Linked DNA regions of Homo sapiens. The protein of the gene in region 1 binds, or shares a complex with, the protein of each later gene. Each region holds a gene or a part of one and is shown on either strand. Other genes may lie near its edges. The genes, in order: AAK1 and PDLIM5.

Region 1 (16,150 bases):
ATTCACAGAAGAATATTGTTTCTTTAATGCTTTGTCTCTTGAAGTATCTAACACCCCCTCATGTTTTGGCATTCTGTTTCTAATGAAATAAGTAAGCTTTGTTTCATAAAAAGGATTGATCCAAAATATCGAGTAACTGAACCCTACCAGGAAGCTGCTTTTGGTGAATTTGGTGGCCATCTACTTATAGCCACGCATCCAGACTGGGATAAGCTACATGTAGAACACCAGGGAATGATGTTGTCATGCTGCATGCCAAGAGGGGCAAAGCTTGTGCATATGTACCAAAGGCCAGTTGAATATGTAGACATTTGGGGTGCCAACTAAAGTTGTAATTGACTAAATGGGATGATTAATAAGGGAAGACTTTCTTAAGGAGGCAATATTGAACCTTGTTTTGAAAAATTTGAAGCACATAATTTAGCAAGAAGATAGAAAGACATTCCAGGTGGGACAGAGCATGTGGAAAGACAGTGAGGAGGACACGAATCTTGAGATACTCTGCACACTTGTCACCCCCTATTAGTTGTTTTGGCAAGACAGAAAGCCATTTTTGTGTGGAAGCATTTGGAACCCTTACATGGACTTTATTCTCATTGCAGGATCCAGCAATCAGCCTGGCCTTTTAGCCAGTGTTCCCCAACCAAAACCCCAAGCCCCACCCAGCCAGCCTCTGCCGCAAACTCAGGCCAAGCAGCCACAGGCTCCTCCCACTCCACAGCAGACGCCTTCTACTCAGGCCCAGGGTCTGCCCGCTCAGGCCCAGGCCACACCCCAGCACCAGCAGCAACTCTTCCTCAAGCAGCAACAGCAGCAGCAACAGCCACCGCCAGCACAGCAGCAGCCGGCAGGCACGTTTTACCAGCAGCAGCAGGCCCAGACTCAGCAGGTAAGGTGGTCAGAGTGTGGCCCTTGCTTGCATATCTGAGTCATGACTGTGAAAAGGCCCACTAGGTAAAGGTGTCTTCCCAGAGAGCCATTAAACATTACATCACTGTTTCTCATAGATGTAGATACTAAAGCATTGAGAAGCGGATCCATCACTCACACCCCTTTCACCCTTTTACTCAGGCCATGAGGAATCTGTCATCTGATTGAGGAACATCAGTACAAGAGCTATTTTTTTGGCCGGGTGCAGTGGCTCGCGCCTGTAATCCCAGCACTTTGGGAGGCCGAGACAGGTGGATCACGAGGTCAAGAGATCGAGACCATCCTGGCCAACATGGTGAAACCCTGTCTCTACTAAAAATACAAAAATTAGCTGGGCATGGTGGCGCAAGCCTGTCGTCCCAGCTACTTGGGAAGCTGAGGCAGAAGAATCGCTTGAACCCAGGAGGCAGAGGTTCAGTGAGCCGAGATCGTGCCATTGCACTCCAGCCTGGGCAACAAGAGCAAGACTCTGTCTCAAAAAAAAAAAAAAAAAAAAAAAAACTATTTTTTTTTAAGGACTGCTTTTTTTTCTTCTTTTTTCTAATACAACTGTAACACCATTATCATAAGAGAGGAAAAAATAACAATAGTTTCTTATTATCAAATATCCATTAGTGTTTAACTGTTTCTGATATCTCATAATTAAGTTGGCTTGTTTGAATCAGTATCCAATACTAACAGATTGTATTTAGTTGGTCTATATTGTTTTCCATTATCTTTTCATATATTTTTTTCACATTTTTTACTATGAATGTATTCATTTTATAATGATGAGTATATCTGTTTTTTTGGAGGTATGGTCTTGCTCTGTTTCCCAGGCTGGAGTGAAGTGGTGCAGTTATAGCTCACTGCAGCCTCCAGTTCCTGGGCTCAAGTGATCATCCCAGCTGAGTCTCTCAAGTAGCTAGGACTATAAGCATGTGCCACCATGCCTGGCTAATTTTTATTGGTAGAAATGGGGGTCTCGTTATTTTGCCCAGGCTGGTCTCAAACTCCCGGCCTCAAGCCATCCTCCCACCTCAGCCTCCCAAATCATCGGAATTACACACATTAGCCTATGCGGCTGCTGGCTGATATATCTTTTAAGTCCCCTTTTATCCATAGGTTCCCTCTCCTCTTTTTTTTTTTTTTTTTGCTTTTTGTCATTTAATTTTTCGGAGAAACTGGATTATTTGTCCCTTGGAATTTTTGGCATTCTGGGTTTAGCTGATTGCATGCTATGGTGTCATTTGATGTGTCTGACCGTCTTCCGTGTACACTGGTAATTTCTCGAGGCTTACTCAGTATTTGATTCAGTTTGACAATTCTTTGTTCTTCCTGTTGCATCATGTCAGGAGGTCTGTAATGTCTCTCTGGCCTCTATTTCACTGATATTAAGATCAGGGAGCGTGTACTTTCAGATTTCCCTGAAGACTGCGTTTCCCAAAAATATTTTTAAAAAAAGGAAGAAAAAAAGATCAATCGGTGTATTGAGGTGTTGTCTGTCTGATCCATTTGTTTAATGTTCCCCATTAGCTTAGCAGGTATCACTGATCATTTGCCAAGTTCCTTAATTCATCAGGGATGGCACAGTGATATTCTAACATTCCCTCTTCATTTGAGGGCTGGACGTTTTCCATGAAGAAATTTTTTCATCAGCTCTTTAGCTACCCTGAGGTACTGTTTGTACAGAAAAGGCAGGAAAAACACTTGATTCTTTCCTTTTGTTTACTGGTTTTCAGAGTAATAAATTTGTTCCCTCTTGTCATCCAAAGGTGAACAGTGACGTTTTTGTTTTGTTTAGTTTAGTTAGTATCATTAGGAATTCTTAGATTTTAACATATTTGATATCTTTGAATACATTGCTTTTTTTGTTTTGTTTTTACTAGAGGTGGGGCCTTGCTGTGTTGCCCAGGCTGGAGTGCAGTGGCTATTCACAAGCAGGATCCCACTACTAATCAGCCCTGGAGTTTTGACCTGCTCCGTTTCTAATCTGCGCTGGTTCAACCCTCCTTAGGCTACTGGTCCCCTGCTCCCGGGAGGTCCTCATACTGATGCTGACCTTAGTGCAGACACCCAACTAGCATAGCATACTACAACCCTTGACTTCCTGGGCTCAAGCGATCCTCCCGCCTCAGCCTTCCGAGTAGCTGGGACTACAGGTGCACACCACCATGCCTGGCATATTGCAGTTTTAAAAAATGTATTTATTTTAAAGCTCAGATTGCCCCAACTTTGGCCAGTGGAAGTCTCTTCAAATTGGCTCCTAAATCCTTTGAATGTAACTCCAGTGGTCTTTAATGATTTCCTTGCTATCTAGGATCATGCTGCCCTCTAGGATCATGCTGCCCTCAACTTGAAATCATCCATTTTTCTTAGGAGCTCTGTTTCTTTTTAGTGCAAATAATGTTTAGAAACCACAGTTTTGATGCTAGAAATACCATTTGCCTAATGGATTGCTTGTTGTTTCTAGGCCTTCTCAGTGGACAATTAGAAAATATATTTTGTTTTGTTTTGTTGGAGAATAGGCATTATGAATTCGGATTTATATTCCTAATTTGGATTTGTAATTACTGGATTTCTGTTTAACTTCTTGGATTTTGTTGTTTTTTTTTTTTTCTGGAAATCTTGATTCTTAACAGCATTAACATAGATAATTAATTGTTCTATCGTTTTAAGATAGCAATAACCATATGATTACTGAAAACAGTTTAAGATTTCCTTGCCCATTTTACCCTTAGAATGTTTAGCACATTATTTTCTGGCGCGTTCAGCTACCAATTTGATACACCGGTTTATATGCATTGTTTTGCTTTTGATTTTTAGTTATTGCTTTTTAAATTTTAGTTTAATTCTGTTTTGTGGATATGTGAAACATTTACATAGTTTCAGAGTTAAATCTGCAAAAGTCCATCCCCACCAACCCATATATAGTGGTATTGCTCATTCTTATTTACAACTTGAGAGTATTCTATTAGATATTTCCTTCAGGATATATCTATCATAAATATTTAATCAGCCAGTCTCCTGTTGATAGACATTTGGGTTGTTTCCAGTATTTTGCTGTTATAAGTAGGCAGCTATTTTTTTTTTTTGACATCTTCTAATTTGTTAACCCTTTAACTTTGCCCCAGTAGACAAACAGTATCCTCCCAATTGACTCTAATAACTACGTAAAGTATACGGGATGTTCAAAGATACAGTGTTGACCTTAGTTCATCAGCAGGCCCTTATTTTGAGCTCTGTTTGTGTATGTAGCACATAGCCCCTAACAGTGGGGATTAGAGAGACATATAAGAAGTGTGGGCCAGATACAGTGGCTCATGCTTGTAATCTCAGCATCTTCAGAGGCCGAAGCGGGAGGATTGCTTGAGCCCAGGAGGTCGAGACAGCCTGGGCAACATTGTGAGACTGTGTCTCTACAAAAAATAAGAAAAAAAATTAGCCAGGCATGGTAGTGTGCACCTGTGATACCAGGTACTTAGGAGGCTGAGGTGGAATGATCACTTGAGCCCAGGAGGTCAAGGGTGCAGTGAGCCGAGATTGCTTGCACCACTACATCCCAGCCTGGGCAACACAGCAAGACACTATCTCAAACAAACAAACAAAAGGAAGCGTCATAGAGCACACTGGCTATTTTGAATGTTTAAGGAAGTTTAATAAAAATGGAGCTCTTGGGAAATAATTTTTAGTAAGACTTGAGATGAGTCTTAATAGTTGAGTTAACATTTAGGTTATTCTTTTCAGTGTCATCATTGCTTCATCCTGTTCAGGTAGGGAAGCATTTTAATCTTGGCTACTTCAAATCCCTTTATAAGAAGGATTACCTCTATGATTAGGAGATCGTTTATTAGCTCCTGCTATACTCTAGCTTATGGAGTCACATGATGTTTAGTCAGATAGCTTCCCTTAGGCAAGGCCCAGAAACCCACTTGGAAGGCCAGTCTGTAGTGCAGGAGGCAGCCTGGTGCAATGGATGGAGCCTAGCAGTGTAAGGGACTGCTGCTGTGTTGTATTTTAATTCCCTGAGGTCTCTATCATGAGATTTTAGGCCTAGCCTCAAGACTTTTCTACTTGCCCTTGCCTTTGGCTTTAGCACTGGTCTTCATTGTTTTTGAGACATTTGTCTTTTGTGACTATTATTCTGGGACAGGCCCTTATTCATCTCCTCATTTCTTGCTCAGTTTCAGGCAGTACATCCAGCAACCCAGAAACCAGCAATTGCTCAGTTCCCTGTGGTGTCCCAAGGAGGCTCTCAACAGCAGCTAATGCAGAATTTCTACCAGCAGCAGCAGCAGCAGCAACAACAACAGCAACAGCAACAGCTGGCCACAGCCCTGCATCAACAACAGCTGATGACTCAGCAGGCTGCCTTGCAGCAAAAGCCCACTATGGCAGCAGGACAGCAGCCCCAGCCACAGCCAGCTGCAGCCCCACAGCCAGCCCCTGCCCAGGAGCCAGCGGTAAGAATCAACCAGAGCTCAGAGCACAAAAGCAGCAGAGGAATGTGCAGCGAGAGCTAGGGGAAGGGTGGGAAAGATGGCAGCAGCTGATGAGGGTCCAGGTTGCTTTCCCACCTGGGTGGTTCAATTATTTGATCTTTCCTTGATATATCCAAGAATAGTATGGATGTTCTATAGAAGATAGAGGTTTTTTTAAAAAAGGATTCTAGGCTACTGATGAAGAGCCTTCTTAATTTTTATCACTCTGAAACTAGGCTAGCAGGAAGATCTGTTCATCATCTCTGTCTGTGTCACTTTGAACAGTCAAGGACCTAGGCAGGATTAAAGCTAATCCCTTTCTCTTCTTCAAGGGGCAGTTTGATCCATTGTGCCCTTTCCAGGCCCTGGGTCCTCCATGTTGTGTTTATTCTTTGTCTTGGATGACATTACTAATCACATTATTTAAGTTTACCATGCAGCTCCCGTCAAGGGCCTGCTTACCTGAGACCATTCACCCTGGTGTAATCCCCCTGGGTACCAGAGCATCTGAGTATCCAGTCATTTGAGCCATCTTATCAATTTAGAAATTGGGCATGTCCACTTTTAGATATTGGCTGAGTATGGCATCAGAACCCCTCGTCTGATTGTCCTCTACAGTTTCAACACACACGGGCACATCATGCTTTGGCCTGTGATAAGTGGATTTTTTTCTGTACTCTTATTTTTCTGAGTGATAGTGATAGAAAATGTTATGGTGTTAGAAAAAGACATTTTGCATACCCAGCTGGTAGAGTGTCACAGCTACCCTGTTACTCCCAGGGAAGTCTAACTACTAGAGGAACAAAGGAAAAGTAAGAAGCCATCTTTCTGCTGGGCACAGTGGCCTCACGCCTGTAATCCCAGCACTTTGGGAGGCCGAGGCGGGCGGATCACAAGGTCAGGAGATCGAGACCATCCTGGCTAACGTGGTGAAACCACGTCTCTACTAAAAATACAAAAAAAAAATTAGCCGGGCGTGGTGGCAGGCACCTATAGTCCCAGCTACTCGGGAGGCTGAGGCAGGAGAATGGCGTGAACCCGGGAGGTGGAGCTTGCAGTGAGTGGAGATCATGCCACTGCACTCCAGCCTGGGCCACAGAGCAAGACTCCATCTCAAAAAAAAAAAAGAAACCATCTTTCTGAGGATTGATTTCTAATAGAGTTTTGTCTCCCATCTTAAACCAGAAAACCTACATCGCTTCGAAAGGAAGCAGTGCCGTAGATTGTCTTCTTTAAGTCTTAGCTAAGTGTGTGTTTAGTGTCTTTACACCTTCGTTTCTAAAACAACTCAGACTTCCTGCAGGCATGGAGTAGACAGTGAGTCTCTGTATTTTTAACAAGAGGTAAAGTTCCTCTTCTTCATGGAAAAAGAGTTTTTAAAAAAATTAGTACATGAGATAGCTAGAAGGGACCTTAATTATTCAGTTCAGCCTCCTCATTTTACAGAATTGGAAACTGAGGCATAGACTAGAAAGTGGTTGCCCAAGACATACGAACTGATGGTAGTGGAGCTGGGGCAAGAATCAAAGAATCCTGATCTGTGTTTAAGTTTAATTATAACAAATGCTCATCCAGGGTGATAAAATGATCAACTACTACTGACTACACTTCTTATGAGGTTCCCCTATGCTTCTCCTACACAAAAGTGTCTACTCCCTTGGGAATGAATTATGAACTTTCTCCGTGTTCTTTGGATGAAAAAACACTTTGAACACTTTGCTCTGGGATAGTTGGTTTTGGGGACAGAGAGGAAACAGAAATAGACCATGCTTTGGCCAGGAGCCATAGAGCTTCTCAGCTTTGACCCATCCTTGTCTCCGCTGACTCTTGGCAGGGCTAATCTAAAGAAGCAAGTGAATGAAGGTAAAGCGTACCCTGTAGCCATCTTAAAGCAATAATTAGCAAAGGGGAAATGGCCATTTGCCCTAGATGTTTATTGCAGTCTTATTAATAATAGCCCAGAGAATTTGGAAGCAACCTAAATTGCTGAGAAACCCAACTGTGCAGCCATTAAAAAGCACGGTTATAAAGTCTGTACAACAGTATGAAAAGAAATGCTCATGAGGTAATGTTAAAGGAATTGTGAAATTACGGAAAAACTATACACTTGAAAAGAGACTTAAAGTATAAGGTACCAAAAAGATAAGGATTGTATCTAGTTGTATTAGAGTGATGGAATAGAAGTCTGTTTTCTATATTCTTACATTTCTTGATGTGATTATACTCCTTTTATAATTACATTTTTAAAAAATCGTCAGCAAAATAGACATCTGAGTCTTTTTATTCCTTCTCCCGTGGTCTCTCTGTCCCTCCTCCCACTTTCCAATCCTGTTTGGATGGGATGGCATCATGGGGCAGAAAAGAGTCCTGAGCCACAGTCAGGAGACATGGGCTCTGCTTCCAGTTAACCCTGTGACCTTGAATGAGCATTTGGCCTCAGTGCAGGAGTTGAAATCTGCATTTTCTAAGGTCCCTTTAAACTCTCACATTCTTTGATTCTAAGTGGAAGTATAACTGTCTGCCAGGGTTGCTGGGAGGCGTAGCTGAACAGATACAAACCACTTAGTGTCTGTAGATTGCTGTTATAGGGCAAGGTGTCCTGAAGGAGGCATCTAATCTTCAGTGTGCTGCATCTGGAGAACAGAAGAGAAAAATGTTCTCCAAGTGGTAAGAAAACTATCCAACTCCTTTCCTTTATGCCATCAACCTCGAGACAAAACAACTTCGGATGTAAAATGCCCTGGAGATTTCACCATCCCTTCCCTCCAGTCCTTCATCTCAGAATAGAGTTGTCACTGGACTCTTCAAAATAAAGGGACCCAACAGTTTAGTATTCTTTTCAGATTAATGAATGTCTCATGAAATAAGCCCATTCAGTGTATCCTCAAAGCCCTCTGACCCCTATGTGTGGTAGTATTCAGCCAGCTGTTACAGGCACAACTCTGGACCCCCAGAGGAAGTTGTGGAGCTGGAGCTGTGGTTGTCTTCACAGAGCACTCTGCCTCTCCTTCAGCAGGGCAGCTTTGTTACCCTTCTAACCTCTGATTGATATTAGAACCTTATATTGTAACATTCAGCCTGTTGGTTAAGTGGATGGAATACTGACATGTGTACATAGTCTACCTTAATAAATTTTCCAAGTCCTGAGGACAAGATGAGGGCAGTCAATATCCCAAGCTAGAAGCATCCTGACCCAGGTAGCTGGATAGTCTAGTTTCCTTAAACTGTCTCAGGGCCTGCCTTTGTAGACACTGAGACTGCAGCTGAACTGAGTTGCAGCATGGAGCAGCAACTCTAATCTGAGAAGAGGGACTGGAGGGAAGGGATGGTGAAATACCTGGGGCATTTTATATCCAAAGTTATTTTATCTCTAGGTTGATAGTGTAAAGGAAAGGGGTTGGGTGGCTTTCTTAACATTTTTTGTTCATTTTCCTTGATATAGGTGACTTATGCTTAAGGACCACTCATGTGGTCACAAGGATATTCTCACCGGTATGTTGTTCTGTGGTGGCAGTTTGGCCTGTTTTGAAAATGGCCCACATCACAAGAGTCCTTGTATTATTAGCTCAGTCATCATCAGGACCTTTTTTTTCTTTCTTCTTCTTATATTCTCTGCCAGTTCTTCAATATTATGTCCAAACTGAAGATTGAAACAAGTTAATCCCACTAAACTAATGCTACATATTTTCTTAGGAGTTGCCACAGAAATAGGATCTTATATACCCATCCCATCAGTGAAATAAAGAGCCTTAACAACAAAACAAAAAAGGGAATGCTTATACATTCTTGATGGGAGTATAAGTTAGTTCAACCATTGTGGAAAGCAGTGTGGCGATTCTTCACAGAGCTAAAAAGAGAACTACTATTCAACCCAGCAATCCCATTACTGGGTGTATACTCAAAGGAATATAAATTGTTCTGCCATAAAGACACATGCATGTGTATGTTCATTGCAGCACTATTCATAACAGCAAAGACATGGGATCAACCTAAATGCCCATCAATGGGAGATTGGATAAAGAAAATGTGGTACATATATACCATGGAATACTATGCAGCCATAAAAAAGAAGGAGGATGGAGGCTTTGCAAGAACATGGTTGGAGCTGGAGGCCATTATCCTTAGCAAACTATTGGAGGAATAGAAAACCAAATAGCACATGCACTCACTTACAAATGAGAGCTACATGATGAGAACTCATGGACGCAAAGAGGGAAACAACAGACGCTGGGGCCTCCTTGAAGGTGGAGGGTGGGAGGAGGGAGAGGATCAGAAAAAATAACTCTTGTGTACTAGGCTTAGTACCTTGGTGACAAAATAATCTGTACAACAAACCCCCGTGACACGAGTTTGCCTGTTTACCTGTATAACAAACCTGCACATGTACCCCCGAACCTAAAATAAAAGTTCAAAACAAACGAGCAGTAACATTTATTAATCACAGTAGAATTTTCTCTGACTCACTCCCAACCTGTGGTCTCGCTATGGCAGAGAGTGAGGGATCTCTTAGCAGAAATCATTCAGCTTAAATGTGTTTCGCTGGAGATACGTCTTCATTGGCCTTTACCTGTAGTGATAGGATCTATTGCTTGCCCTTTGAAAGCATTCTGAATGAGTTTGTATGTGACTCCAGAAATAGAAAGTGGTCCTTTATGATAAATTCTAGATCTTTACAGCTGGAATAGCTTCTGCATTCTTATGCTTTGAGCTGAATATGGTTAACATATGGTTACCCTATATATTATCGCTGATAAAGATTGAAATTTATGTGTATCAGGCAAATACCATGTTGTTATCAGTCTCAAAGTTGCAGCACAGATTGTCAAAGCCTGGATTTTTCTTTCTGGGCATTATTGATAAACTTAGCCATGTGAGTTTCATGTTAGTGCTTATGTGGCATTTTTTGTTGTTGTTGTTACACTTATCTGTTTGTTTTTCCTTTAACTTTTTTTTTTAATTTAATGAAACACTTTCCGTCTCTCTTCCTAGCAGATTCAAGCCCCAGTAAGACAACAGCCAAAGGTTCAGACAACCCCACCTCCTGCCGTCCAGGGGCAGAAAGTTGGATCTCTCACTCCACCCTCATCCCCCAAAACCCAACGTGCTGGGCACAGGCGTATTCTCAGTGACGTAACCCACAGTGCAGTCTTTGGGGTCCCTGCCAGCAAATCAACCCAGCTGCTCCAGGCAGCTGCAGCTGAGGCCAGTCTCAATAAGTCCAAGTATGTGGTGCTTCCTCTTTGTTGTTCTTACCTCTGTGGGCAAAGTCTGCCTGCGGCTGTTAGTGTGTGATTCTTTGCATAAGTGTGTAGATGTGTGTAATGCAAATACAGTGGTGTGTACTTGTGTTTGTTTATTTTTCTGGTTTGTTTATTTTTCTGGCTCATTTCATCTTGCATGTACTTGTGTTTAATGAGCAGCTGTGAATTTGTCTTTAGTGCATGGGCCATACTAATCTTAAGAAATCTTTTCCTACTTGGCCCACTGTTCTCATTCTCTCACCTGTTCCATGCTCTACAGTGTGTTTTCTGAACTCTCGATCTGACCGAGTCTCTCCACGCTGAAAAGTCTTTCACTGGCTCCTCATGATAGCTGAGCACACTGCTTAACATAGCAGGGCCTGTTGTGTTTCACAGGCAGACTTGCCATTCTTCACCTTCCCGAGCCCTTTGTTCCTCCTGTGCCCTCTCCTGGGACTGCTATGCTCCTCCTTGCCCACCTAGGGAATGTTCATTTATTCATCAAGATCCATGTCAGAGGTTGACTTTTCCTTGACCCTTCCTCTGATATGATGTATAATTTTTGTCTGAACATTTTTTTGAGCTTATATGACATTGTGTTGTCGTTAATTATTTGTATGTCTGACCGAACTGGTTTGTGAGTTCTCCAAGACAATGACCATGTCTTAGTCAACCTTTGGAAATCCAGTGACTGGTTCTGTGCCTGACAAGTAGATTTTGATGAGTGTTGAGTAAATGCAGTTTCAGACCCTTAACTGTCTTAGAACCATACACTCTAAAGTTAAAATCTTTCAATGAAGTTAAGAGAGACTTTATAAGAAAATTATATAATGATACTTAGATGCACAAAGTAGTGGTAACTGTCTTTATTTCTTTTTAATTGTGATGGTGGCCCTTAACTCTATGCATGCTGGATCCTGAGAGATGAGAGGCAGCCTAAATAGACCTCTTTCCTGCCCTTCCAGAGGTCAGTTATTGTGGATGTTATGGTGGTCACCACAAGATACACAAGTCTAAGAACAGGTTGCTTTTAGATCCTGAACTGAAACAACTTGCAGATAAGACTGAAAACTTAAGCAAGAGATTAAGGAAGTAGTGGGAGGTAGTGAGTCATGAAGGAAAGGAGACATTCATTTCACAAAGTGGAATGGGTATCTGCGGAAATTCTTCAGGTGCTGTGGAAAGCCCTTTTAGGAAAACACTGTGGGCTGGATGCAGTGGCTCACGCCTGTAATCCTAGCACTTTGGGAGGCCAAGGCAGGTGGATCACCTGAGGTCAGGAGTTCAAGACCAGCCTGGCCAACATGTTGAAACCTTGTCTCTACTAAAAATACAAAAATTAGCCAGGCGTGGTGGCATGCGCCTGTAATCCCAGCTACTCGGGAGGCTGAGGCAGGAGAATCGCTTGAACCTGGGAGACGGAGGTTGCAGTGAGTCGAGATCACGCCATTGTGCTCCAACGTGGGTGAAAGAGCAAAACTCTGACTCAAAAAAAAAAAAAAAAATACTGTGGTGGAAAATGATGGTTTGACCCAGAAAATAATTTGATTCTGAAACAGAGAAAATAAGTTGACCCTTTTTGTTTTGTTCAACTTTTATATCTTTTTGTTTCGTGGGGGTGGGAACCTACCTAGGTCTGCAACCACCACTCCATCAGGCTCTCCTCGGACCTCTCAACAAAACGTTTATAATCCTTCAGAAGGGTCTACGTGGAATCCCTTTGATGACGATAATTTCTCCAAACTCACAGCTGAAGAACTGCTAAACAAGGACTTTGCCAAGCTTGGGGAAGGTGAGTAAGCTGTGTCTTTTTTTGTGCTTCTTGATTATAGATTCTCTGTGCTAAGAAATAACCAGGAATGAGAAAGAATCGTAACTCTAGAAGGGTATGCATGTGGAAACGTAGGCTTGGGCCTTTGCATAAGGCTTGATTTCAAAGTATGCATACAAGTCAGTTTTTATTTTTACCATGGGCCCTGAAGTCCTCATCTTCAGGAAATCCTGATCTATTGTGGGTGGTAGCAAGGAGAGTGTGATGCTTAGGGAAGAAACTTGTAGAAAAGGTTTGTGACATAGTCCAGGATAACAGCATCAGGCATGGTCCCTCCTTGGAGGAGTGTGATGGTTCTCTCATCCTAGGTTGGTTTACTGTCCCAGAAAGTTGCCACTGCTTGTCCATGAATGTGCCTTCACATGGACACTGAATCTTTCTTTCACTATAGTCAGAGTTCTGTATTACTGTACTACACAGAAAGATGATTAAATAAATAGAAGATATACTTCTGCCTGAAGAACAGTCTACTTTGGAAGGCAGGACACACACACACACACACACACACACACAGGCACATGCACACACTTTGGAACAAATTCTAATATGCATAATTCTAATAATTCTAATAATGTTAGAGAGTACTCTAATAAAAAGTACTCTCAATGTAGATAAGGGCGCAGGATAAAGGAATGATGAGAACCAATTGAGTGGTATGAACTATTGGCCAAACATTTTGGCTTTAACTATCATTTTATAGAAATCTTTTAAAACTCCAATCCAGGTGTGGTGGCTCACGCCCGTAACCCAGTACTTTGGGAGGCTGAGGCAAGAGAATCACTTGAGCCCAGGAGTTCAAGACCAGCCTGGGCAACATGCCAAGATCCTATCTCTACAAAAAATTTTAAAAATTAGCTGGGCATCCTGGCACACATCTGTAGTCCCAGCTACTTGGGAGGCTGAGGTGGAAGGATCACTTGAGCCCAAGAGGTCGAGGCTGCAGTGGGCTATGAATTTACCACTGCACTCTAGCCTGGGTGACAGAGTGAGACCCTGTCTGTTGAAAAAAATTCCTATTACTTTCTTGCTTTTTTAAACAGAAGATAGGGCATAGTACTTAACTTTTTTGGCAACTTTGTTTCATTGTTATGTATACCAGTTGTTATTCTGGACTGTAAATAGAAATACCTCTATAGACTACTGAAAATTGTAGTAGTTTTGTACCCAAATAACTAGCCCCTGAGTTTTAATAATTTCCTCTCCCTTTTCTTACTGTTCAGCTGTCAGCTTTCACATTAAGCTACTGTCATTATGCTTGTCCCTCATAACGTCTCATTATTGCCATCTCCACCACTCCCTCTTCTCATTTGCTCTCCTAAACTGCTTCCAACATGGAAAGCAGATCATCAAACTCATTAGAGCTGTATAAAGTGAATAGATTACAAGTGAGGGCGGGAGGCATTAAATGTGCAGTTCCGTAGTGTTAAGTACATTCACACTGTTGTGCAACCAACCAATCTCCAGAACGCTTTTCATTTTGCAAAACTGATGACATGCTCTCTTTTGATTCTTAACAATTTCCTTTTTTTTCTCAGCCGTTCTCTCAGTTATTGCAATGACTAGACAAGGACCTTTGAATGTGTCGCCATAATGCAGTAAAAGTAGTCAAGTCCAGAAGTCAGTTCAGAGAATGCCCCTTACCTCTGCCATGTGTGTGTGCCTCGCAAGATTCTGCTAGAATGAACTGAGTGGTGTTTTGTCTCTCCAGGCAAACATCCCGAGAAGCTTGGAGGCTCAGCTGAGAGTTTGATCCCAGGCTTTCAATCAACCCAAGGTGATGCTTTTGCTACGACCTCATTTTCTGCTGGAACTGGTTAGTATGGCAAATACCTGGAACGGGAGGTTCACTGTTGTTACCTTCACACTGTTTTTTACTCCACAGATAACTCTAGCATGCCAGTGAAATCCAAATCCTGGCAGTACCGTGTATATATATATATATGTTTTTCATGGTCTATTTAATTTAAAATTTACTTTTTTTTAATTCAAAAGCTTTCTGATCAAAAAGGGATAAAGATCTAGAACCACTTTGAATTAAAGTGGCAGGACAGTCTGGCAGTAATATGCAGGACTTGTTCTCTCTAGTCCACAGGCACGTCTTAAACAAATATTTCTAGATTTAAGAAACACCCAGTGTTCATTGCTTGTAATTTCTTAGGTTTCTGAGATTACTTGAAGAATTTTAAAAATTAAATATTCTGTTATAGCTAACACTCCTCTAAACTGTGTGTGTGTGTGTGTGTGTGGGTGTGTGTGCGCACACGCACGCACGCTGTTGGGGAGAAGGAGGGAGGTATTTTTTAATGAGACTTCTAAAAAAGGAGGGAGGTTTTTTTAAATGAGACTTTGTTAAAAGTATAGAAGCAATCATAAGAGACAAACTTTTCCCTTCTATTAATAAAAAATTATACATTTTGATTATATAAAAGTTAGTAATTTATAGAGAAGAAAGTTAAAATTCTCCATGACCTCACGACCAAGAGATAGTCTAGGGATACTATCTTGATATCTGTTAGAGGCATTTAACCTTTTGAGAGTCACAGATATCTTTGTGAATCTAATGAAAGTTATAGGTCTCCCTGACCAGAATACACATGACCACAATTTTATTTTTTGAGATGGAGTCTCGCTCTGTTGCCCAGGCTGGAGTGCAATGGCTCAATCTTGGCTCACTGCAACCGCCGCCTCCTGGGTTCAAGTGATTCTCCCGCCTCAGCCTCCAGAGTAGCTAGGATTACAGGCACCTGCCATCATGCCCAGCTAATTTTTGTATGTTTGTAGAGACGGGATGTCACCATGTTGGCCAGGCTGGTCTTGAACTCCTGATCTCAGGTGATCTGCCTGCCTTGGCCTCCAAAAGTGCTGGGATTACAGGCGTGAGCCACCATGCCCAGCCATATGACCACAATTTTGTACACTCTTTGGCCCCCTGCTTAAGACTCTGAGACTCTGATATGCATCTTTTTTTTTTTTTTTTTTTTTTTGAGATGGAGTCTCATTCTGTCGCCCAGGCTGGAGTGCAGTGGCACAGTCTCGGCTCACTGCAAACTCTGCCTCCCAGGTTCAAGCAATTCTCATGCCTCAAGCCTCTCAAGTAGCTAGGACTACCGGTGTATGCCACTATGGCCGGCTAATGTTTGTAGTTTTAGTAGAGATGGAGTTTCACCATGTTGGCCATGCTAGTCTCGAACTCCTGAGCTCAAGTGATCTGCCTGCTTCGGCCTCCCAAAGTGCTGGGATTACAGGCATGAGCTACCACACCCAACCTGATATGCATCTTTATAGTCATATTTTGAAGCCTAATTTTTTCACTTAATGAACCTGGCACATATCTCCTACATCATTAAAGAAGCTCCTAAAATATAATTTTTTTTTTTTTTTTTAGACGGAATTTCGCTCTTGTTGCCGGGGCTGGAGTGCAATGGTGCGATCTTGGCTCACTGCAACCTCCACCTTCCAGGTTCAAACGATTCTCCTGCCTCAGCCTCCCAAATAGCTGGGATCACAGGCATGTGCCACCATGCCCAGCTAATTTTGTTAAAGTATAATTTTTAAAAATTATTACAGGTGCGGTGGCTTACACCTGTAATCCCAGCACTTTGAGAGGCCGAGGTGGGCAGATCGCTTAAGGTCAAGAGTTTGAGACCAGCCTGGCCAACATGGTGAAACCTCATCTCTGCCAAAAAATA
Region 2 (16,011 bases), on another chromosome or scaffold:
CTCCAGCCTGGCGACAGAGCAAGACTCCGTCTCAAAAAAAAAGAGAATTCCAGAGATACAAACTTCCATAATATACTCTGTAACAGCAGCCATGTATTTTAGTTAAGTACATACTCATATAGGCAGATTGTCTGGCTTTAAAACCTGCGTCTGCCTATACTAGCTAGATGAACAACTGTGGGCAAGTTACATTAACCCTGTGTCTTCATTTTCTTATCTGAAGAAACTATAATGTAAGTATCTAGGCTGCTGTGAGGATGAAATAAGTCAATATATACGAAGGATTCAAAAGAGTATTTAGCTTTTATTAAATGTTTAATAAGAAATTGTTATAATTCAAAATTCCCATTTGTTCCACAGGTATTTGTTATATGTATATGAATTTTTATAACCAAAGTAAGTGTATATAACAACATTATGTGTATTGATATGTACTAATACTGCTACTCCTAATTTTTAGTTTATTATAAAAGTAAAATATTTTCATAGAAAATTTGGAAAGTATAAAAAGCAAATAGAAGTATAATAAAATGACAGCAAGTTTCACCACCTAGAGGGCAACTATTGATAACATTTATAGTTGCACTTTTTCCATGAATTTTAAAATGTAAGCATTAATGTGTAAAATAATATTTAACTGAAAATGGTTAGATTTTGTTATTCATACCTAGCAAAACTCCTGTTATTTTGTTCATACCTTTAAATTTTGAGAAGAAGCAGGCCTCAAACTTTGGCTAGAGTATTGTTTAGAAAACATTTTGTCATGTGGAATAATCAGATCATGAAAATATTTAGATTCCAGTTTCATATCCCATAGTTTAAAAAATTGTCTTGCTTACTTTCTTCATCTGTTAACTTTTCACAGCTGAGAGAAAGTGGCTTTGAGAATACTCCCAGAATTAATTTTATGAAATTAAATGTTGATAGGTATGTGCATATTGCACAGACTGGCAGAATTTCTTGTGATGTGTAAATTAAATATTATCAGTGGGATAGTCTAGTTTTAGTATATGTTATTGATCCACAATCATTCTTTCATAGTACTTCTTATTTTAGAAACAATTCTATGCTTTAATCAGATTTTTAATGCATTGATTCATCACTCTTAGGACTATATCCCTTACATTTTGGCTAGGAATGACATGCCTTAATGCATTCCACTATGACTATAAATGTGGGTACCTTCCAACCAAAATATTAGTTTCCTTGCTTTCCCAGAGTATATAAATGGATTTTAAAAACACTTAGTAGAGGTGCTATTTTTCGAGTGGAGAGATTTTCCTGTAAATAACGCATGTTAAGATTAGGTTTCTCCAAGGACCTTTCTAATCCAAAATGCCACTTACTTTAAGACCTCATTTGTACATTTGCCTTCTTAATAATTATGTCCTCAAAGCCCTGCTATTGATAGAAAGATCCATGGAAAAGCTTCAGAAATTCTAAATCCAGAAATGAGAAAGACTATCTAATGAATCAGCAAAGATTAGATCAGTAGTTCGGGACCAAAAACCAAACTGAGATTTAAAAGCCAATTAATGGCCAGGCGCACAGTGGCTCACGCTTGTAATCCCAGCACTTTGGGAGGCCAAGGCAGGCAGATCACGAGGTCAAGAGATCAAGACCATCCTGGCCAACGTGGCGAAACCCTGTCTCTACTAAAAATACAAAAATTAGCTGGGCTTGGTGGCACGTGTCTGTAATCCCAGCTACTTGGGAGGCTGAGGCAGGAGAATTGCTTGAACCTGGGAGGTGGAGGTTGCAGTGAGCTGAGATCGCCCCACTGCACTCCAGTCTGGTGGCAAGTGAGACTCCGTCTCAAAAAAAAAATTTTGTGATTCAGAATATTCACAGTTGGTACTAGCTCTTTTATTGGTTAGAAAGTTGATAATGCAAAAAAAAAAAAAGATATTTATTTCAAGATTTTAAATGATGGTGGGTTATACCATACCACTTTAATGAAAATGCTTCTAAAAAATAAAGTGTCTAATTTAAAAAGTCAGCAATTTAAAAAATCCAAAAAGCAAAAATTCCAATATTTTTCCAACATATGAATTTGCTTTTGACATCACTTATATCTTTGGTGCATGATAGACACTAAATAAGAGTGCATAGCATTTTAGTGATTTATGCAAAGGTGTTGATGATTAAAAGAGTCACCTATAATGTGTTAGTCAGGGTCTTGAGAGGAAATCGATGGTATACTCAAATGTGTTTAATTGAAAATAATTTAATAAAGGACTCTGTATAGTGGTATGAGCAGGGTGTCTTCTACTACTACCTTTTATAAGTAAGATCTTTCTAACTGAGCATTATCACAGTGAGCATTCTCCGTGTCCTTTTTTTTTTCACATTTTTCTTAACTCGTTAGTAGAAACATGGAAGGCATTATGATGAGTACATAAAGCTAATGATCTTTTCATTTATCTCTTTTTGGTATCCTAACACAGTGCTTCTCAACTCTTTTCACATCAAGGCAAACTTGGAAACTGGGGAAATGGATGAGGCTTCCAATTCCAGTATGCCCCACCTCCCAGGTTGAGAAGATTAATTTCTTGGCACAATCAACTAATTGGGAAATTCTGCTCCAGGTCCATTTCTTACTTTAATGTTCTTAAAATAGAGTAGTCCCCCCTTATCCATGTTTTCACTTTCTGCAGTTTCAGTTACTCATAGTCAACTGCAGTCCAAAAATATTCCATGGAAAAATTCCATTAGAAAAATTCATGTTTTAAATTGCATGCTGTTCTGCGTAGTGTGATGAAATCTCACACCGTCCTGCTCCATCCCACCCAGGACATGAATCATTCCTTTGTCCAGCATATTCATGCTGCATATACTACCCACCCTGTTAGTCACTTAGCAGCCATCTTGGTTATTAGTTCTACTGTCCCTGTATGGCAGTGCTTATGTTCAAGTAATCCTTATTTTACTTAATAGTGGCCCCAAAGCATAAAAGTAGTGATGCTGGTATTTCGGACATGCCAAAGAGAAACCATAAATCACTTCCTTTGAGTGAAAAGGTGAAAGTTCTTGACTTAATAAGGAAATAAAAAAATTGTATGCTGAAGTTACTAAGATCTATGGTAAGAATGAATCTTCTATCCATGAAATAGTGAATGAAAAAGAAATTCATGCATAGTATATGTAGGGTTAGGTATTATTCTGGTTTCAGGCATCTACGAGGGGTCTTGAAATGTACCTTCTGAATATAATGGAGTAGTTACTGTAATGTCTTCATATAACATATTTTTACAATTATTGACCCACATGTTAGTTTCCATCTCATCTCCAAAATCGCTCCTACATATTCTCTATCCTCTCAACCACTCACCGGACTCCTCAGTGAACTGACTTTATCTGAGTAAAACATCAGACTGACTGAACCTTGATCTTATCATGAGGAATATTCCTCTACTTCTGAAATCTCAAGTTTGGGACTCTCTGATACCTTTTTTCAGTGTCCATCCTATCTATCCTTCTTATTTTTACCCCTCACTAACCAACCAATTGCCTTTTTTTTTCCTTACTAGAAACTGCCAGTAAAATGCATAGTTCCTTGCTCCTCTCCATTCAGTCAATATCAGTTATGAATACCACCCACCAAACTGAGACTTGAATCCCTGAGGCTAGTTTAAACTTTGCCTTCTTCCTCAATTACACATTTTCTCAGTTACCCTAGGCTTCACGGATCTGCTCTTACAGTCTTTCTTTTCCATTATTCCTTTCCACTCTCTCCATGCCTGATTTAGTTCTGCCCTTCTCCCAGGATTCTTTAGTAAACTTTAGAATGACACTGTGCCTTCTATCTTTTCTCCCTAAATTACCAAATGTTTCTTTAGTTATTAGAATAGTTAATGCTTCTTTTCCATTCTAGATTTTAAAATTTAAATGCTCATGAGTGGTTTATTTACCTTCCAGGATTAGGACTTAAAAGATAAATTGACTCAGTAATATAGGAACTTTTAAAAGACTGGCACTTCATAGTTTATTGGGTGCAACTGTAAAAACTTGTCACAGCCATGTCATGTTGTAATTAAGTTTCTGTTATTTTTGAAGTGCTACAAGAGGTTCTGAGTCATAGATTGGATAATAAAATGTTAGAGAAAACATTTATATGCTTAGGTAAATACTGTGTTTAGAGGGACTATTCTTAAAAACTCTTCCTGCTAAGTAAGTTAATCTTTTGATCTCTTTCTCCCCCACCCCCCAACCCAGCTTTTCTTTCCCTGATTATGATAAAATGAAGCTTTTAATATGTTTTCCTTTGTGGTCAGTGCCTCATTACTTAGCCCTATAGAGTTAATGAGGCCAAGGACATTGGTTTGATTTCCCAATGGACCAGTAACTTCTGATCGTCTGTAGTCACAGGCTGTCCTTCAGACCATGGCCAACCATTTCATAAATGTTAGTGATGAGGGAAACAGACAAGGGGAGTCAGAATGGCCCCGTGGCAATTCATTATAAAACAAGTTAAGGCATATGTCCTCCTGAAGTGGCTCAGGAGTTTCATCTTCCCTCATATACAAATTACTCAGCAGTTATTTTATTTCCATAATTTGCTATGGCTTACACCTCTATGGCCCTCAGCAGTGTTAGTTTCGAAAGCATTCCATCTTCCTCAGGTCTTTGGTCTGGATGGCTTACTGAATTTACCAAGAGACAGTGTGTTGCGATGAAAGTAACATGGTTTTTGGAATCAGACCTTTTGCTCTACTACCATCACTGATTAGCTGTGGGCGTGTGCCCTAGGTTAAATGTCTTAATCTCCAAGTTTCTATTTCTTCCTCTGAAAAAAGTCTACTTTATATGGTTGTAAGAATTAAGTAGAATAATGTACATAGGGCACCAAGAACATAGTACTTGGATAATGAAAGTCAAAGTTCTCTACTTGTTTTTTATGATACACAAATAAATCTAATCAATTGGTTAGGAAAGTTTTCATATGGCTACCATTTATTTAATCCTTACTTGGTGCGAAGCATGCTGTGTAATGTTTTATATATATTATCTCTATTCCTCATGATAATCTCACAAGGTTATTTACAATGATCATTTCCTTTAAGATGAGGAAACAGATAAGTTGCTACCATCTGGAATGCATGGTTCTTAACTGAGCACAGTGCACATTAAACCGGAGACATAGCACTATCTCTAGGGAAGTAGTTTTTAAGCACTGCAGTTTAATAATTACCTGGAGGTGGGGAGGGAGTGTTTGTTAAAAAGATTCCAAGGGCTCACCTACAAGGATTCTGAGTCCAGAGGGGATCCAGGAAAATGCAATTTTAACAAGCTATCCGTGTCATTTTGATGCAATCGGTCCTTTTTAGGACACTTGGATAAATATCAGTCTATGCAAGACAACTTAATTTGGTTAATTTACTCTGTAGCCCAGGATTTAAACTGCAGTAGTAGGAGGAGGTTCAGAGACAGGCTAGCAATTATGGGGTAAAGTGGAATTTGCATAAGTAAGCAACAGTCTGCCCATTCTCAACTCTTCCTCATCACCTCAAGAAGCTTATCCTCTAGTGATAACTCCATAGGCTATCTGCAGTTGATGTCTTTAAATTAATCTTTGTTGATCCAGGATCAATTTAACTGTATCAACAGCAAACAGATGAGAAGGGGCAGAGTTGGGACTCCTAGAGGTTAACTCGAGCCATGGCCCTGTGGAACTGGCAGAAGCTGTAATTGCTTGCGACCTATTATCTATAAATGAGGATGACATTCATTTTATAAAGTTCTTGTAAGGACTACCACACTGCATAGCACATGGTAGGTATTTGCTAATGGTAGCTATTGTTATTTTTTTTTTATTTTTGGGTGAGATGTCAAACATGATAACATATATTAGACTCTCTAAACCAGCTTTCACACTAGGAAACACTTTCCCCCAAAGCCATCTTTTGAAAAATGTGGTGAAAGCTATGGACTGGTGCTGTCCAATGAAAATATAATGTGAAGCACATATGTAATTTTATTTATTTATTTTTTTAGAAACAGGGTCTTCCTTTGTCACCCAGGCTGGAGTGCAAAGACAAGATCATAGTTCACTGCAGCCTCGAACTTCTGGGCTCAGCAATACAAATAGCTGGGACCTGGGACTACAGGCACACTACACGACGCCCAGCTAATTTTTTGGATTTTTTTAGAGATGGGTCTTGCTATGTTGCCTAGGTTAACCTCAAACTCCTGCCCTCAAGCCATCTTCTCACCTCAGCCTCCCAAGTGCTAGGATTATAGGTGTCAGCCACTGCACCCTGCTCACGTAAGTAATTTTAAATTATCTAGTGGCCACATTTTTTTTAAAAAGTGAAATTAATTTTAATCAAATATTATTATTATTACTCTTTTTTTTTTGGTGCGGAGTCTTGCTCTGTCGCCCAGGCTGGAGGGCAGTGGCATGGTCTCGGCTCACTGCAACCTCTACCTCCCGGGTTCAAGTGATTCTCCTGCCTCAGCCTCCCAAGTAGCTGGGATAACAGGCATGCGCCACCACACCCGGCTAATTTTTGTATTTTTAGTAGAGACGGGGTTTCGCCATGTTGGCCAGGCTGATCTTGAACTACTGACCTCAGGTGACCCACCCGCTTCAGCCTCCCAAAGTGCTGGGATTATAGGCGTGAGCCGTCGCGCCCGGCCATAATCATGTATCATTTAACAAAACATAAAATATGATGATTTCAGCATATAATCAATATAAAAATTATTGAGGCATTTTACATTATTTTTTCATACCAAGTCGTCGAAATCCAGTGTGCATTTTACACTTCCAACGCATTTCAATTTGGGCATTATATTTTCAACTTTAGTCCTTAAATGTAGTGCTTAAAAGAAATGTTAACGACCTGGCGCGGTGGCTCATGCCCGTAATCCCAGCACTTTGCGGGGCCGAGGCGGGTTGGTCACCTGAGGTCAGGAGTTCGAGATCAGGCTGGCCAACATGGTGAAACCCCATCTCTACTAAAAATACAAAAAATTAGCCGGGCGTGGTGGCGCACGCCTGTAATCCCAGCTACTCAGGAGGCTGAGGCAGGGGAATCGCTTGAACCCGGGAGGTGGAGGTTGCAGTGAGCCGAGATTGCACCACTGATCCCAGCCTGGGAGACAGAGCAAGAATCCGTCTCAAAGAAAAAAAAAGTAAAGAAATGTTATCCTGCTTCAGTTTTAAATGTTAAATTATTTAAAATTACGTAAAACAAAAAATTCATGGTCTCAGTTACAGTAGCCACATTTCAACTGTTCGATAGCCACATGTGGCCAGTGGCTACCGTTAGGGAAAGAGCAGCTTTGGATCTTCGCCTTTGGAATTTTGCTTGCACTTCTGGGGGCCGGGGAGCTCACGGACCTCATGAAGTTCATCCTTGCTTTATATGCTCCTTGGTTAAGAATTGTCCTTTTCACGTTTTATAAGCCAATTCACAGTGTAACAGTCTAGTTACTTTCCGTATGTTCAGTGAACATTATTCACGTTTTCTTATGAATAAATTCCTCGGGCGTATCAAGCAACCCTATAGAAGGCTGGAAAGTGGACTATTGATTTGGATTTAGAAAAATAAACTGAAGATACAGTGGTTGAATCACTTTTGGCCGCTTTTATGTATCACTGTCTTCTGGTGTGATGGACAGGGTTAACTTCTGTTAGGGTTACTGGTTTTCACCTTCCTGACAGGTAAACTTCTGGGTCTGCACTTTTCAGAGCATGTAAAGCTCTTTCAAAAAAAAAAACGCAGGCAGTAACCGCTGAACTTGCATAGATAGAGATTTATCCAAAGTACCCTTCTATTTTTAGGCAGAGCAACTGCTTGCCAATTTAAATTTCTGGAGAGAAAAATGCACCCACTACAAAACGGACGAGCGGAGGGTTAGACCTTTGCCAGGTAGCGCTCAAAATCCGCTAAGACTACTCCCACCGAAACTCGGTAGCGCAGTTGTCTTTCCGCAGCTGCTTCAGCCAGCCCCAGCAAGCCCGAGCGCCCGGCGCCGCCGCCACCTTCCCCGCCCCTGCGCGGCGCGGCTGGGACTGGCCCAGAGGCGTGGCCGGGAGCGGAGGGGCGTGTCCTGGGTCGGGGGTGGGGCGAGGGAGAGCCAGGAGGCGGAAGTTCCCGCGGGCGGTGGGGACGGCGCCCTCACCGCGAGTCACTTGTCAGCCCTTGTCTGAGGCGGAGGCAGCCCCGCGCCGCGCCGGACCCGAGGTGAGTGGCGGCCGGCCGGCGATGCGCCTCTCGGATCTCCGGTGGGAGAAGGGAAAGAACCGGCCGCTGTGCGCCGAACGCGAGAAGGGAAGCCCGGTTGGGGACGAGGAGGGGGCGCTCCTCGGGCAGGGATGGCTCCTCAGGTGCTTTCTGGGCGCGGAGCGGCGGAGGTGGGAGAGCAGCTTGGGAAAAGGAGCGCCCGGAAAAGGGCAGCGCTGGAGTCCGCATGAGGCCAGAGGGCGAGCCCTGGGGTCCCCGCAGCCCGGGCCGACCGGGACCAGCGTAGCGGAGACGGGGACGCGGGAGGGCGCCCGGAGGTGGCGAGGGCCGGCAGGGACGGGCACTGCCGCTCCCACCCACCCGGCTGCCGGCGTCGCCCGGCACCACCGTGGTGTGGTGTCTGAGTGCCCAGTCCTGCGCCAGTCTCTTGGAGGGTAGGAAGCGGGACTCAAAGGAAAAGGCGCGTTAGTTTTTCTTTGCTCCCAGGCTACTGAGAAGCATTTATTTCTCCCCCAGATATTTACAGTTTTGTGTAACCTGTTTGGGGAAAACTTCTGCGCGTCCAGAAATAAAGCTCGTTTAAGAAACACATTTGTCATGAACACGAGATTTGTTAACACTTGAGTACTTGTTGGGGCTTTTGTAAGACTGTGCCTTCGGTGCGTTTTACAATAAGTGGAAAAAGGAAGGGCGTGTGGACAGGGCAGAGCTTGGAAGGAAAATTCGTGGCGGCGCTGGGCAGGGCAGATTTAGGGTGTGATCGCCAGATCCTATCCCAAGTCCGCCTTCCTGACGGGGAGGACGTCTGAACCCGCCTGCCACGGAAACGGCCCGTTCGGTAGCCTTATTTGGCCAACAAGGCTAGGCGCGAATCCCTCCTGGAAAACTGTCCTGTCGGCTGCTTTCATCCTGTGCCTGTGGCTTTAGTTCTTCAGCTCTACCTACATTCTCTCTCCATTGCGGGGAAAGAGAATCTCAAGATATTTCTCTTTAATTTCAGGCCTTTTTTTTTGTCACTCTGTGTAGTTCATCTTGAGTTCTCCTTTCTCCCCTCTCACCCACTAATGAAGCTGAGATACAAGTGTGGGAAATACCAAGCTTCCTTCCCTAGTACTAGAGCAAAGACATTGTTTAGACTTTCCCTAAAAGAAAATCCATAACTCTACAGAAATTCCAACCTTTTCGACGTGTTTGAAAGAGTATGCTGCTATTTCCTGCCTGCTTGGTATTTGAGGAAGGGCTTGGGCACTAATAACCAGATGGAGGAGTCTTGGAAAGGCCAATAAAAATATTGCCATTGCTTGGGGCAGAGACTGTTTTAAGGCAGATGAATTCCAAATGAAGCTAGCAGAAGAAGCATCTAGAAATGAACGGACAGTGACTAGAAATGAAATGACACTGGTTTTGTAGTGTGGCTGTGACCTTGCCAGTGCTAGGAATTTTAATAACAAATGAGAGAAGTTAGGAAGGGAATCCCCAAGTAAAGGGAAGTTGCAAGTACATGGGTTGATAATCTAAATGAAATACATTTTCTTGTAGGGAAGAATGGGGCCAGAGGAAGTTGAGCCCAACTTTCATATTATTCCCCAGACACAAGTTAAAGATTAATAAAGGAGGGCAGGCTGCCTGTGAAATATCAGTTGGCTTTACACGATTCTGATTTGTATCGTGTCAATATCAGGACAGTCCTTCTATTAGTTTTCTGAAAATCTCCTCCTTTTATAGCGGGAAAGCAATTGAATTATGTGTGGCTCGTTATTAGCTTCCCACTAGTAGTTTTTCACCTATATATACAGTTTGACTTCCGGCTTGGCCTTTGGATCTTTTTTAGTGCTCTGTGCCTATTACTTCATTACTGAAGTAATGTGTTATTGCCTTGTAGTTCAGTATACTACCACGCCAGTAGAAAAGCTGTTTCGGTTTCTGATACAATTTTCTGTAATTTTTATTTTCCCTGATATAATTTTTCTTTAAAAACCAGGCTTATTTGAATGTTTTGCCCCATTTTCCCTTTATGAGAAGAAGGAATGTTTGCTTTAAATATACCTATGGCTCAAATATCTATATCTGCAACTATGAATTTGGGGTGATGGGCTAGAAATTTTGAATGGGTTAAAACATATTTTAAGACAGGTAATATTAGGTGGTGATTTGGTTGAATAGCTTACATTTTCCAAGGAAGTATGTTTTTAATATAAAATTACATATCTGTTATGTTTTTAATATTTTTTAAAGAGAGAGAATTATTGTTTCTTAGTATTCCATTAAAACAAAAGAAAACTTCATTCCTCTGTCTCCTGCCGTTATAACAACCAATAGGAAACTCGAAGTTTTTTTTTTTTTTTTTGCTTTTTAAAAATTATATGAAAGTACTACTAGGAGAGTCATCACACGCACACTTAACAGCAGAACAGACAAAAGAAAGCACCGAAGCACTGGTTCTTTTCTAAACTGCCAATTCCATTTGAATGCATTAACCCAGCACTTTTGCTGTATTTAGTCATAATCTTATTCACTGAGTGGCAAATGCTTACTCTCTGCCTGGTGAGGTGTGTGTATAAAACAAAAAGCAGGTTGTGACTAACATCACTGTACTAGAGTATTGCCTATCGTTGACTATCTGAAGGAAAAGTAGATATCACTTTAAGTGTGGAAAATACCATGTCCCCATAGGAGGAAATACAAGTTGTAGTTCATGATTGGAGAGAATAGTTTTGTGCATTGAAAAACAGCTTCTCATTGTAAAGAATTTAGTATTTGGAAAGCATGAATGGGAGCCTACTGATTTGCAGTCTCTTTCACATGTTAGAGTAACTTAGAATTTAAGTAAGTGCAGTTGAAAGACTCTTGTCAATTGCAGACAAAAGAATACATGAAGTGGAGGGAAGGAGAAAATTATTCTGAATTCAACCTGAAATAAAATCTTGCTACATTAGTGAAGTATTGTAAAGTACTTTGAGTTAAACTTTGCATGCAAGAAGCCACAAAATTGGATTGAAGCAAGTTGTGAAACATACTAAGTGTCTAGAAATGTATTCTGATATGGAATTTTTAGACCATGGAAATTGCCATGAGTGTAGAAAATTTATATTAGCTCACAGATTGCTTTTCTTAAACTGAAATTAATGAAGAACTTAATTAAGACTTATCTTCTATATCCTCTCACCCCCCTCAAACAAAATACTAAACATAATTTATGTTCTAGGGTTTCAAGTAAACATTTTTGCTAATCATCTGATTTTCTTTCACAGCATATTTCATTTTCTGTCATTGGACTTTGAGCCATTAGAACCATGAGCAACTACAGTGTGTCACTGGTTGGCCCAGCTCCTTGGGGTTTCCGGCTGCAGGGCGGTAAGGATTTCAACATGCCTCTGACAATCTCTAGTGTAAGTAAACTTTACAAATTTTATTATAGATGTTCATTCAGTGCTTAGTCCTCGGGCTGAGTTGTTTAATTCTCTGTTGACCTGTACTCTACTTATTATCATTGCTCCTGGGATTTGATCTTGGCAAATTTGATTATCTATAATAAAGGATGAGGGGAGTAGATTTAGCAAGGATAACTGACTTCAATTTAACTTCTTTTCGTTTTCCCCCATGTTATCAATAATAAAATGGAAAAAGCATTTAACTAGGAACAGACTGTACATTTTTGAACTGTCCCTAATTTGGGGAATTCTCTGAATCTTCGTTCTTTCATATATAATTTTCAAAGGTTGTGCTATGGGATTTTAATAATCTCTTTCAGTTCCAAAAGCTGTTTGTTAAAAACTGTTGATCAAAATTGAATAAAATGATTGTTTCGGAATTATTTCCTCAGCTCACTTTCTGGTGGAGGTGATAGCCAACAGTAAGATGGCCAAAAGCTACTTACCCTTGAAGAGGAAATGAAGGGCTTGGAGCTCCAACTAGATAGCCTATGAATAATTGAGATTTGGCTTTTTACCTCATTATGGATTTAGTTTGAATGTATTCTGTGTATATATTTTAAGGATATGTTTTCATGATGATGATGATAGCACTGATGAGAGGAGTAATTAAAGCTTCTATTTATTGAGACTTGACTATATGTCAGGTACTGTTTCACTTTCATCACCAGTAGGTAATTATTACTATTATATAAGTTTCTAAAAGGTTTGTTTTTGCATATTCAAATAAATATGAATTTCCATCTTCTTTTACTCAAATGGTGGCATATTATACACACAGTTTTTTTTGAGACAGAGTTTTGTTCTTGTTGCCCAGGCTGGAGTGCAGTGGCGCAATCTCGGCTCACCACAACCTCCATCTCCCGAGTTCAAGCGATTCTCCTGCCTCAGCCTCCCGAGTAGCTGGGATTACAGGCATGTGCCACCACGCCTGGCTAATTTTGTATTTTTAGTAGAGACCAAGTTTCCCTATGTTGGTCAGGCTGGTCTTGAACTCCCGACCTCAGGTGATCTGCCCACCTCGGCCTCCCAAAGTGCTAAGATTACAGGCGTGAGCCACCGTGCCTGGCCCACACTGTTTTATACTTTGCTTTTTTTTGCAACAATTTACCCTGAGATCATTCTCTATTAATATATAAGGAGGTATGTGTGTTTTTTTAAAACAATTGTATAATTTTATTTTATAAGGAAAGTGACATTTAACCAATCCCCTACTGAAGAGTATTTGTGGCATTTCCATATTACTGTTACAGTGGTACAGTGAATACCAAATATAAGTACATACATATATATGTGAATATATGTATCTACGTCATTTTGAAAGGTTGTGCCAATTTACACTTTTGTGCAACGCATGAAAATACTATTTTTGTGCCAGTCTTACCAACAAACTTGGATATTTATCAAGTGCTGTGAATGCATCATCTCATTTAATTATCATACCAACATGCAAAATAGTGATATTATTCCCATTGTATATAACTGTGCTGTGCGCTCACATGACTGTATGGAAGAGCTGGCTTTCCAACAGTTATGCTGTGCTGCCTCTTTAATAATTCACTTTACCTTAAATTTAGTTAGTTGTTTCTTTAATCAGATATTTAGAAGATTGTCATTTTGGTTAATAATATATGTGTATGTATAAATATATATACACACACATACTCTGCATCTTGTATGTGTATCCAACTTCATTTTGAAAGATTAAAAATAAGTTTGTAACGCCTAAATATCCTTATTAAAATACTGCAAATCCCATTTTACTAACGGAGTCTCCTTTGTTTCTTGGCTGTGGATTTTTTTAAAGTTATCTTTAATTTATCATCAATTTCTGCCTTGATTTCAGTTAATTAGATTTTATAAGGAAGTATATATATGTAATCCAGCCTGCAAGTTTTAACACCTTTCATGGTTAGATGAAATTTTAAATGTAAAGCATCCATGTGAAAATGTGTCATGTGATTTATTCCTGTTTGAGTGAGTTGGTATTTTATTTCTTCTACTGATGATCTATTATGGGAACAGGAGCAATCTTTGAGTATTATTGGTTTTTACGTTTTGTTAGCATTTTATATTTTAAATATTCTACTTTAATTATCTAAAGAAAGTTATTAGTTTAAATGCTTACTTTTTTGCTGAAAAAAAGTTCAGAAACAAATTGACACCTAAATGAGCCAAACTTAATTATCACTTTGTTGTGTGGTAATAGAAATGCAAATAGAGTATGTTTGCGAATTTTGTGGTACCGTGTCTTTAAAAAAGTTTCATGTGCTTCAGTTTCCTGGCAGACAGTTTGAGGTACTAGCTCCATGTTGTGATGCTGATACAACAGAACACTGTGTACATACATATGTGCCCTCCCCTGGCACAGAAGAAATGCTTTCCTTGTGTAGACAGAGTGCTAATTAAAGGATTTTGAACATACTGATTAAAAGAGACTATGGTAACAAAGCTGCTGAGTTATTTCTGTTCTCTTACAAAAGTCTCTGCCATCTACTGTGACCTTTTTGGGCCTTGTGCAGTGGGGCATGCAATTCATTCTGGACTGGAGAGGATTGGAAGGGGAGGGGAAGGAGAGAAGGGAATGTTGGCTCAATCGGGCTGCTAGGCTCTTGGCCTTTCATTGTAGTTATTTTTAACCCCTTGTGTGGTTTAAATATGCCTAGTAACATTGCCTAATAAAGGTTTGCGTTTAATAACTAATTTATATTGTGGTAAGATTGTTAATGTTATAAATTTTTAACTTACTCTCATCTTAATTAGTTCTTTGGTTATACTTTTTCTGCCTTAATTATGTAAAATTACTGGGATATTACTGGTCATCAGGTTCTTTAATTAATAGTATCAAGAAACAATTAAAACCTGAAAGCATGCTTAAAACATGTAATTTAATGATTCACTTACTTTAATAATGCACATGAAATTCTTAGCAAGGTCTGGCAGTCTCTCAATTATCTTTTATAATAATATTATAAACTTTAAAAAGAAAACTATTTAGAGACTTGAAACATTAAATATTTAACCCCCGTAGTTGTAGGGAACATACAGTTATGGTTTTGTTTTGTTTTTTTAAACTTATTGTCCACTGAAATTAAGAAAGGAAAAAAAATCAGAAGTTTGTACTTAGCTGGGAATCTGCATCTTTAGAGTTCAAAACTGTGCAATTTTTCCTCTGATTAGGTATTATTATGTTGAACTCCAAAGGGTCATTTACATTCCTTTATAACACTGGAGCTCTGGTGTATCGAATTGTGTTATGAGATAAGCCACTAGCAGGGACTTGAACATTCCATTTTCTTTAGATTTTGTTGTATCAGCATGTGAATATGCTGAATACAACTTGTATCCTAAAGCATACAAGCTATAACATTTTCACGTTGGACTCAAATTTCTTCATCATCTGTATTGTATGAATTTTGTATACTGTTTTGTTGGTGGATTTCTAACATAAGATTGCCAGTTCCTGCTAGCTTTTTAAAAAGATCCTCAGGTTGCTGTAGCTGGATGATCACATGTCATTTAATTTCCGATCCTTAAAATGGAGTGCGGGCTACCTAAGTTTGCAGGCTGTCTTTTTATGATCCTGTGTTTATGGAATTGCCCTGAAGCCATGGAATGTGAGGATGGGTTTCATTGTAGCAGTGTGGGTTTGTTGGTTTTTGCCAGTATATTTTATAACAAGAAATAGGAGACTTGTTGGATAATTCAAGGCTATATTTTGGCCAGTTGATAAAGATTATATATTTGTGAGTAACATCTTTTAAGTTGTTATATCCTAAAGTTGAAATACTCTGCTGTGTGTTACTTTCTCATTATGTTTGGGCTCTTTTCTTCACTGTCAATATTTGGATTACCTGAAGATGATATCCCAATTCTCTGTAAACACATTTTAGATGTTTCTTTAAGAGATAAGAATTAGGTCAAACTTTTTAACATCTAAATAACAATGACTTTGATTCTCAAGAGTTAGGGGAGGATAAATTGTTATAAGCTTGGACAAAATTCTAATTGGATTTGAAAAGCAGAAGAAACTTACTATTGCTTGGATTATGGAGCCCTGTTTGGGAGTCTAACACAGAACAGAGAAGGACAGAATTGTGAAACACTTTGCTATGAATTCATTGATTCAGTAGTTATAGTAATACTTCCTAGAAGCCACTGAAGAAGATACAAAGTGGGGAGTACAAAGGTTGGATGGAAAAGAAATAAGCACAGTGCTATAGAACTAGACAGTGTCGTAAGACCTGTCACAAGTCAATATTCTATGAAATGACAGATTCTGATAAGTGTTTCTCAGTTTCAGTGGGTGTAAATCTTTTGTTTGTGGGGGTTGGTTTCCTTTAGGAGAAGTTAATTGAACTGATCCTCAAAGGATGAAATTTAAACAC

What was found.
Region 2: the proteins of AAK1 (region 1) and PDLIM5 are in contact, whole or in part, in a crystal structure (PDB 9F6S), measured with the Homo sapiens proteins. Residues at the interface, in NP_055726.4 of Homo sapiens: Asp956, Leu958, Ile959, Asp960, Leu961; in NP_006448.5 of Homo sapiens: Ala12, Pro13, Trp14, Gly15, Phe16, Arg17, Leu18, Phe24, Gln67, Ile70, Lys71.

What each region holds. Positions count from the first base shown.
Region 1 is NC_000002.12:69,503,693-69,519,842, reverse strand, and holds part of AAK1 (AP2-associated protein kinase 1), read left to right. Parts: intron 1-602; coding exon 603-889; intron 890-2,796; exon of another isoform or gene 2,797-3,092; intron 3,093-5,093; coding exon 5,094-5,372; intron 5,373-10,379; coding exon of another isoform or gene 10,380-10,382; coding exon 10,383-10,612; intron 10,613-12,264; coding exon 12,265-12,422; intron 12,423-14,169; coding exon 14,170-14,274; intron 14,275-16,150.
Region 2 is NC_000004.12:94,443,804-94,459,814, forward strand, and holds the start of PDLIM5 (PDZ and LIM domain protein 5), read left to right. Parts: upstream 1-8,138; 5' UTR 8,139-8,192; intron 8,193-11,443; 5' UTR 11,444-11,485; coding exon 11,486-11,581; intron 11,582-12,015; exon of another isoform or gene 12,016-12,440; coding exon of another isoform or gene 12,441-12,755; exon of another isoform or gene 12,756-13,381; intron 13,382-16,011. UniProt on the Homo sapiens protein: May play an important role in the heart development by scaffolding PKC to the Z-disk region. May play a role in the regulation of cardiomyocyte expansion. Isoforms lacking the LIM domains may negatively modulate the scaffolding activity of isoform 1.